Linked DNA regions of Homo sapiens: region 1 is linked to region 2. Evidence: fine-mapped expression QTL. A gene starts in region 2. The other region holds a variant in brackets. All regions are shown on one strand. Distances are between the middles of the regions.

Evidence for each region. PIP is the estimated chance that this variant, and not a neighbour inherited with it, causes the effect.
Region 1: its variant is the best candidate, but not a certain one, in a credible set for the expression of SIRPB1 in whole blood (INTERVAL, PIP 0.67).

What each region holds. Positions count from the first base shown.
Region 1 is chr20:1,469,363-1,473,737 of GRCh38, reverse strand. It overlaps a transcript of SIRPB2 not described here. Among named protein-coding and RNA genes, the nearest start is that of NSFL1C, 4.7 kb to the right of the region's middle. The variant G/A (reference allele first, on the strand shown) is at 2,052.
Region 2 is chr20:1,617,774-1,622,170 of GRCh38, reverse strand. SIRPB1 (signal regulatory protein beta 1) reads left to right here and starts at 2,162. Exons shown (of 6, transcript NM_006065.5): 1 at 2,162-2,302. The coding sequence starts at 2,227.

The DNA.
Region 1 (4,375 bases), 150 kb after region 2:
TGGTCCCTGCCACCCCCTCTGACCTCATCTCCCCAGATCCTGTAAGCTGACTCTTCTCCAGCACCCCTCTGGACTTTGACCACACAAAGCTCCCTGATTCATTCAAGTCTCTGCTTAACTCTTACCTTTAAAGGCCTCTCTGGACCACTCTATCCAAAAAAGCACCTCCATCACTCTCATTCCTGCTTGCCACTTAAGTTTTCTTCATAGTACTTACTGCTACCTGAAAACATGTGTGTGGTGTGTGTGTGTGAGCGCACATGCATGTGTGTGTGCACCTATGTGGGTGTGTGTGCATGCATGTGTGCATCTGTGTGCCTGCGTGTGCACGTGTGTGTGCGTGTGTGTGCGTGTGTGCATGTGTGCGTGTCTGTGTGTGCGTGTGTGTTTGTGTATCTGCTTCCTTGATGGTTGTTAGTTGTCCCCACTAGAATTTGAGCTCCCTGGGGACAGGAACCTAATGGTCCACTATTGTAGCCACCCTCATTGAATCCTGAAACGTGGTTGAAAGCTGACTCTGTGCCAGGCCCTAATCAGTGTGCTGAGAAAGAAACAGAAGTCTGCTCTCTCAGAGCTTACCTCCTCCCGAGAGAAGACAGACAATGAGCAAGTAACCCTAGGTGAGTAACAGGCCCCACTATACTGAGTGCTGAGGGCCTTCACAACGCAGGAGGAGGGGGAAGGAAGTTGCCAGAGCAAAGGGGAAGTGACACTATTTTATGCAGGGTGGACAGAAGAGGCCTCCTGATAAAGTGACATTTGAGCAGACACCTGAAGGAGGTGAGGAAGAGAGCCCTGCAGATACCCAGGGGAAGAGCTGAAAAGTACAAGGAACAGCGAATGCAAAGGTCCTGAGGCAGGAGCGTGCTTGACTTGCACAAGAACAGCAAACACCAAGCAGAATGCCTGGCCTGTATTAGACCCCGTAAACGCCTGAACTACATACATGGCAGAGATGAAGCACACAGTCTCGGAAATCTGGCTGTGCAGGTTCAAATTCCAGTTCTCCTACTTATCTCTTGGGTGAGTTTGTTTCTCTCAGTTTCCTTGTCTATAAACTGGTAATAACATGCGTGTCTCCCTTATTAGGTAGTTTTGAGGCTAAAATGCATTGGTATATGTGCAGCACCTGGCACATAAGAAGCCCTAAATAATTATTATAGTTACATTATTTCATTAGGCTATTGTTATGCAATTCTAACTATAAACTGTAGTCACTATCCTCCCCATGACAAGGAGCATGGCAGCCTACAGTGCCTGGGCCCCTTATCGGGCAACTTCAGAAGTCAGATGACCCTACTCACCACAGACTCAGTTGTAAAATCCTATAGAAAGTTGGCCCTGCTTGGATCCAGGGACTTATAGGGACATGGCAGGGGAGCAAGGTGGAGGCAAGTCCACTAAAGAAGACAAATATAACAAAAGATGAACAATTTAAGGCCCTTCGTGGGGACTCTGGGAAACCTGCTGACCACAGATAGAAAGGGTGGGGAATGGATGGGAGACAGAACTCCTCAGCCCAGCCCTTCTGCTGCTTTGGGGCCCCAGGCATTGCACAGGTGAGATGACCCACCAAAGACAGAGCAGGGGGCATGCCACAGCCCCCACTAAGGGCCAACAGGCCACTATTACATGTCCTGCCTGGGCCTTCAGATCTGATGCCTTGATGTCAGTGACTACACTCCAAGATCCCTGAATCAGGGCATCCGTTTCTCTCCCTCCCCTTCTGTTTTCTCCTTCCTGCAGCTCTTCTTTAGCTCTTTCCTTCCCTTCCCATGGTTCTTGTCCCATGCTCTTCCTGCCCCAAGGAACCCCCATCAAGGCTGCCAAAGTCCCAGACTTTGTGACTGCTCCCTGTGAGAGATAGGTCTATTCACGCCACTCTCCTCGGGCTCGAGGACCCTCCATTTCCCCCTGCAGGTTAGACCTAGAGCTGGAGGAAGAAAAGGAGCAAACACCATTTGACAGGGGCTTCCTATAACCTGACAACCCAAGGATGGCAGCCCTGCTGCATGCAGTATTGGGGTGGCGGTATCGGGGTGCAGTGAGAG[G/A]AGGTGCCAGCCAGGTCAAGAATAGTCCGTCCTCTCCACAAGACACACCGCCCAGAGAGCAGCTACATGTCATTGGCCTGAGAAAGTGGGGAATGCCAGGCCTAGTCAAGCACATTTCTAAATTCTATCTAAATGGCACTGATTAATGGCACTTTGCTACACAGATCATTCTCAACCTTGCTTTCTGACTCAACATTTGAGTTATATCCAGGTTGGTTACCTGTAACTCTAATTCATTCATCTTCAGAACTGTATAGTATTCCATTGTATTAACATATTACATTTGTGATTTCTGTTGATGGATGGAGACCTTAGTTGTTCCAGTTTCTCGCTATCCCAAACAGAGACAGTTTCACTGTGTCTCCTGATGCATGCACAAGTGCACACACCCACAAGTAGAACTGGAGGGTTATACAGGTTCTGTGCTTCTTCAACTCCACTAGATTGGCCAAATCATGCCCCAATGCCATTAAGCCAACATATACTGCTGTTAGACACAGGAAAATTCCTGTTGTTTCAGGCTTATGCCAATATTTCCTATGGTCACATTACAGGGAAGTGCGGGAATCTTCAGTTCTTGTCTGCTTGGAAGAAAGATTTCAGCCAAGAGACACACAGCAAAGGTGAAGTAGCAGAGTTTATTGAAGAAAGATAAAGTACGTTCCTAGAAAGGAGTGGGCTGACCTGGCTGGAAAACAGCATCAGGCAAAAAACAGCAGTAGCAGTGTTTATTTAAAGAGACAGTACACTCTGAAAGAACGAGCCAGCAGCAGCTGGTGCTGGGGGACCCTCTTTATGAGAATCTTACATGATTATTCGTGCAGGGGCATGAGGGAGCGTCACTTACAATCATGTTTTAGGTGGTCCCCCTGGCTGTGAATGTTGTGTGTTTGTACGCGCTAGTAAACACATTGCCTGTCTCATTAGCATTTAAAATCTCCACTCAGGGGTGTGTTTTGTTGTTATTATTATTATTTTTTGAGACAGAGTCTCGCTCTGTCACCTAGGCTGGAGTGCAGTGGTGTGATCTCAGTTCACTGCAATCTCTGCCTTCCGGGTTCCAGCGATTCTCCTGCCTCAGCTTCCTGAGTAGCTGGGACTACAGGCACGCACCACCATGCCTGGCTAATTTTTGTATTTTTTTAGTAGAGACGGGGTTTCACCATATTGGCCAGGCTGATCTCAAATTCCTGACTTCGTCATCCGCCCACCTCGGCCACTCAAAGTGCTGGGATTACAGGCATGAGCCACTGTGCCCGGCTTGTTATTATAATGAGCAAAAGGCTACTGTAGGGCGAGTTACTGGAGGAGTGCACATGCTCGTCAGTGGGAAAGTCCCTACCATGGTTATCTCTGGGTAAGGCCTCATAAGTCCCCTTTAGGGCCAGAGGAGCCCAACCACAAGGCCAGAAGTTGCCAGTGTAGCCATTGTCTCTTTGCTGGCCGCCAGTGGGTGGCGCTGACTGTCAGTGAATGGAGTCTCCAGGACTTCTTTTCCCAAACGCTCCCTTGCCTGCTTATTTCTGGCTATCTGCCTACTCTAACAGTCAGACTTGTAAATGTTTTACCAGTTGGATAAGGCAAAAGGGAATCTCATTGCAGTTTTCATTGGTTCTCACTGCTGACTAATGCAACCAAGCATTAGTCACCGGCTGGCAGTACTGTTATTTTATTATTATTGTCATTAGTTGAAGATGTTGTGAAAAGAGAGACAAATAGTCCCAACTTTGCTGAGGCAGTGGTAGTGTTGTTATTATTATTATTATTTTTTTTTGAGACAGAGTCTCGCTCTGTCACCTTTTGTGAAGAAGAGTGGTAGAAGAAGGCAGTGCTGAGGCTGAGGTAGTAGAGAAGGGTGAGTGGTACCGGCAGCTTCCATGTATAGGGGCCTCTGGAAGGTCTGAATGTCAGCTGAGAAATCAATCATTTGCTCCACCTAGCAGCTCCCCTGGCCCCCTAAGCTATAGAGGGTTTAGCGCTTAGGGGACTGGAGTAGGGGGTCAGAGGAGACACCAGTCCTGGGTACACACAGCTCCTGCCCAAAGTGAAGTCACCACCAGTGAGGACACGGCAGAGGGGGTGCCAAAGGAAGGCTGGGGTGGGGCGGGAGGTGGTGGAAGATAGGATTAAAGGGAGGGGCTGGGGTGAGACTGGAGTGGGAAGGAAGATGGAGATGAGCCCGGAGGGGGCTGGGGGTGAAATGGAGTGAAAGTGGGCTTTGGAGGGTGGGGTGCATTTAGTACTGAGGGTGGAGTTAGAAGGGAAAGTGGGGCGGGGTGGGTCAGGTGCTGGTGGCGGATCTGTGAGGTAGAGGTGAGGCTGGA
Region 2 (4,397 bases):
TGTTTTTGAATTTATTATGATGTCGCTTTTCCCCAAATCTTTAGTGATTACTGCTTTCACTGTAATCTTTACAGGAATAATGCCCTGAGTGATCATGGGCTGTCAGCACTTTATGGAACATGGCACCTATCCCAACCTTGCTGTGGAGGCTGCGCCTAATTGACGTTATGGCTTCTTCTCTGCTTCCTTCCTGAGAGATATCTCTCCCTTCTTATGAGAGGTGTCATAGTGAAGGCCATGGAGTGTGACAACCTGTGTTCTAGTTCTAAAAGCTGGGTGATGTTGAACAAATGTATTATTGCCTGCGTGCCTCAAGTTTCCTCACCTATAAAAAAAGGTTAATGGTAGTGCTAATTTCATGGGACCAGAGTGATGAATTAATGAGGTAACTGACAAAATGCTTGGCACAGTACCTGGAGCACAGGACATCTGCAGTAAACACAGCAGCTACTACCCTTCATGTCATATAGAGACTAGTTTCTTGTTTTAAAGTGTAATTTGGCATCGATTAACATGATTTTATCATTTTTATATTCATTTCTGTGAGTGTGGAGCAGGAGGTGATGATTTCACCCTCTGTGCATCTGCCACATTGAAAAAGAAATTTGCATGGAAATGTGATGACTTTTACAATTTCATTTGACAATTACTCATGATAGGTGAAGGATTGCAAGCCCAGCATGGGAAAGAGAGGTTTCCAGACAGGTCTTTCTTAGTCACAGATGATGGAGGAGAAACCATTTCTCCTACCAAGGAAATTTTTCTAAAGCACAAGTATGTCAGGGAAGCAGTGAACTCACCCTGTACACAAATGTAATTATAGCCACAATTTTTTGGTTATAATTAAATATGAATCAAACCTTCTGTATGGCTTATATTACTCTTACCATATCACTACAAGGTGCATGTTATAACTTCCATTTACATGTAATTAAGTTAAGGCTTAGAGAAGTCAAGTGTCTTGTTGAAAGTCACACAGCTGGAGATTGTAAGAAAAGGAATTCATCTACAGATTGACAAAAAGCAGGGTGAAGAGGATCCAGAGGGAGAAATTGATCTCAGAGTGTCAGAGGTAGACCAAGTACACCATAAAAGCTGGGTTCCAGAAGTCCGGGGAACATGGGAGAAGGCCACTGGTGGGAAACTCAGCATGCAGTAGAAATCCATTTAAAAGCAATATTTGAGTTCCCTCTCTTCACCTGGCACCATGAGTATCAATAATAACCTACTGAATCTCAGGGATGTATAGTCATTATCTCTTTTGATGTTCACTAAAACATGGCAGTGAGACTTATTATCCCAAGGTTAGAAGGCAAAACTGAACCTAGGCAGGCCCAGTAACTTCCCCAACTCCTTAGCACATCTTCTTAGGGTATTTATTCTCCCTCCCTCCTCAGTTCCCATCTGAAGACAGTGATGAATGGAATAGGTGTTCTATGTGCAGAGCAAAGAGTATTGAAATCGATGTGACTGCTCCAGGAATCTGCCCTCCATATTCTCCCCCATAATAAACATATCCCCTTTCCATAACCCATAATCCCCACCTCACCTCACAAAGCAGATCCTTATTACCCTAAGCCCACTTCCTCTCCTGGAAGAAGTCAGGAAATAATTCCTTCTGCTGGGTGCAGGCATATGAAAGTGCTAACGGCCACATGAGACTGAATTTGGGCTAAGTTTTGCCATTTATATTTATAAAAGTTCGGAATAGGGAACCATTTCAAGAGCAGACCTGTTCCTCTCCAACACTGAGCAGGTCCAGTGATCCCTCATCCTGCCCCAACTGAGTAGCACTTGGTTGAGGCTGTTGTAGAATGAGACCACAAGCCAACCACATCCTGAGGTCTTGAGATGGAAAGTTTAGGAAACATTTCATAACCACAGGTCCTTCCTGGCTTAAGAGCACCAAATGGCAAATCACCAAGAAGACATAAAGATGGGGTTAGGAGTCATGGAAGGAGTTAAGACCTCAGGTGGGAAGGAAGCATTATTTCTGCTAAGCCTGTCTGATTCTCCTGAAATGGGGCATGCATAACTGCTTGCATTGTAGCTGCTTGCTGTTCCTGATTTCTGTTTCACAATCCAGAAGCAGGTTACTGCTTCACTCCATCGCAGCCACTTCCTCTTGAACTAAGGGAGGCAGGGCTTGTCTTCTCTCCTCAGAGCAGAGTCTGCGATCTTCCCAGCACAGACGTTTGGACAGAGCAGGCTCCTAAGGTCTCCAGAATGCCCGTGCCAGCCTCCTGGCCCCACCTTCCTAGTCCTTTCCTGCTGATGACGCTACTGCTGGGGAGACTCACAGGTGAGCACTGCCTTCGGTTAAAATCTTTTTTCCTGCCCACTGAGCCATGGCCTGTCCCTGGACTTTCAGGGATTCCGGACAATGACAAGTGCTGCCAAGAAAGGCCAAGGATTAGGCTTTGACTGAGAGCAGAAAATCAGGGAGCTGAGCACTTTCTCTGTGGATCTGCAGCTGGCTACCAGAGGCATTGAACCACAGGACGATTCAACCACCACAACAACAATTACTTACATTTTGATAATATTTCAATTGAAAAAGCAGAGAAGAATCATTATCTAAATCCTCACCAGTCCTGAGGCCCTAGGGCCAAGTGACATGCCCAAGTCCACAGAGTAAGCTCAGAGACACCCTAACAGGGTTATGTGGCTCTAGGCCCAGCCCTCTCTCTTCACCAAACTGAGGATGTGAAGTCTGTAATAGTGCTCACTTGAGTAGGGCAGTGGTGTGGTGTATCCTGGGAGTGTTCAGCCACCATCCTCCCTAAGGGTGCTCCTCACTTTGTCCTCTGTTCCCCCATGCTCCTCCCTCCCCTGTGACCTGATTCTTACCACCCATTTCTCTGTGGCCTCTTCCTCTTTAAGAAGTTCCACATTTGCTGCTTACTGGGTCCTATATTCCTTTCCTAGGGCTTCCATAACAAAGAACTGCAGGCTGGGTGGCTGAAACTACAGATATTTACTTCCTTGCAGTTAAGGAGGCTGAAGTCCAAGATCAAGGTGTCAGCAGGGTTAGTTTCTACTGAAGTCTCTCTCCTTGGCTTATACAGGGCCATTTTCTCTCTGTGTCTTAAACACATGATCTTCCTCTGTGTGTGTCTGTGTCCTCATCTCCTCTTCTTATGAGAATATCAGTCTTGTTGTATTAAGGCCCACCCCAATGACCTCATTTAACTAAATTACTTCTTAAAGACCCTGTCTCCCAAACTGTAACGTTCAGAGGTGCTGGGGATTAGAGCTTCAACACATGCATTTTGTGGGACACATTCAGCCCATAACAGGTACTACAACCTCCTTTGGTTCTCTTAAATTTCCCATGGATAATTTCTTTCCCCTTCCCAAGACAGGCAGGATTGGAGGGCCTTTCCTGGTGCAGCCTGGGAGAACCCTGCTCACAGCTCCCAGACAAGTTACCTGTCCTGATCCCTTCTCAGGCCATGGAGCTGACCCCAGAACCACAGGGCTGGGCACAGCAGCCTCTCAATTCCCCACTGGGCCCTGCTGTGATGTCACCTCACAGGCCCTAGAGGGCAGGGGTCTCACTTTTCAAATTATTTTTCTCACACATACACTGTACCCAAATGACAGCAGTAAGAGTTTAACAATTGAGCTCTTCCTACCATGTAGACACAGTTATTAGCATTTTGCCTGTTTTAGCTCCACTAATCCTCACAACATCCCTGTGTGAAAGCTGCAACTATTATCCCCTATTTCCAAACAAAGACTCAGGCAGAGGGAGGAACTTGTCCATTCATTGTCCCCTACCTCAGTCAGTGGAGCAGCTGAGATTCAAGTCCAGGTCGACCGGCTCCAAAGTTCATTCTTTTAGTCGTGTTATGCTACTAGCAGAAATATTAGAAAATGCAGGGAAGTAAACATAGAATTAATTATTGCCTACCACACTTGTTAGCAACAACCAGAGTTACAACTGTGATGTATGTACTTCTAAATTTGTTATTAATGTGTTGGATGCTTTCTATGGGCCACATATTTTACTTTCTATGGGCCAGATATTTTAATGAGATTTTAACGTGTGTTGTAATTTTATTTAATACACAAAACAAACTTATATACTATCACAATAGGTCACACTTTGATATATATTTGTGAATGTATATGTGTGTGTCTATATATACATATATATGTGTGTGTGTGTATATATACATATATGTGTGTGTATATATATTTGCAAATGTGTGTATACATATGTGTGTATACATATGTATATGCATGTATGCATATAAGTAAGTGTACATGCACACACAGGAGATTTCATTTTTTATCATTGTTTCTCCAAGTTTCTAATTTCAATGAAACTTTTAACAAAATATTTTATTTTTATTTGACAGAACTGTATATACTTATCATGTATACCATAT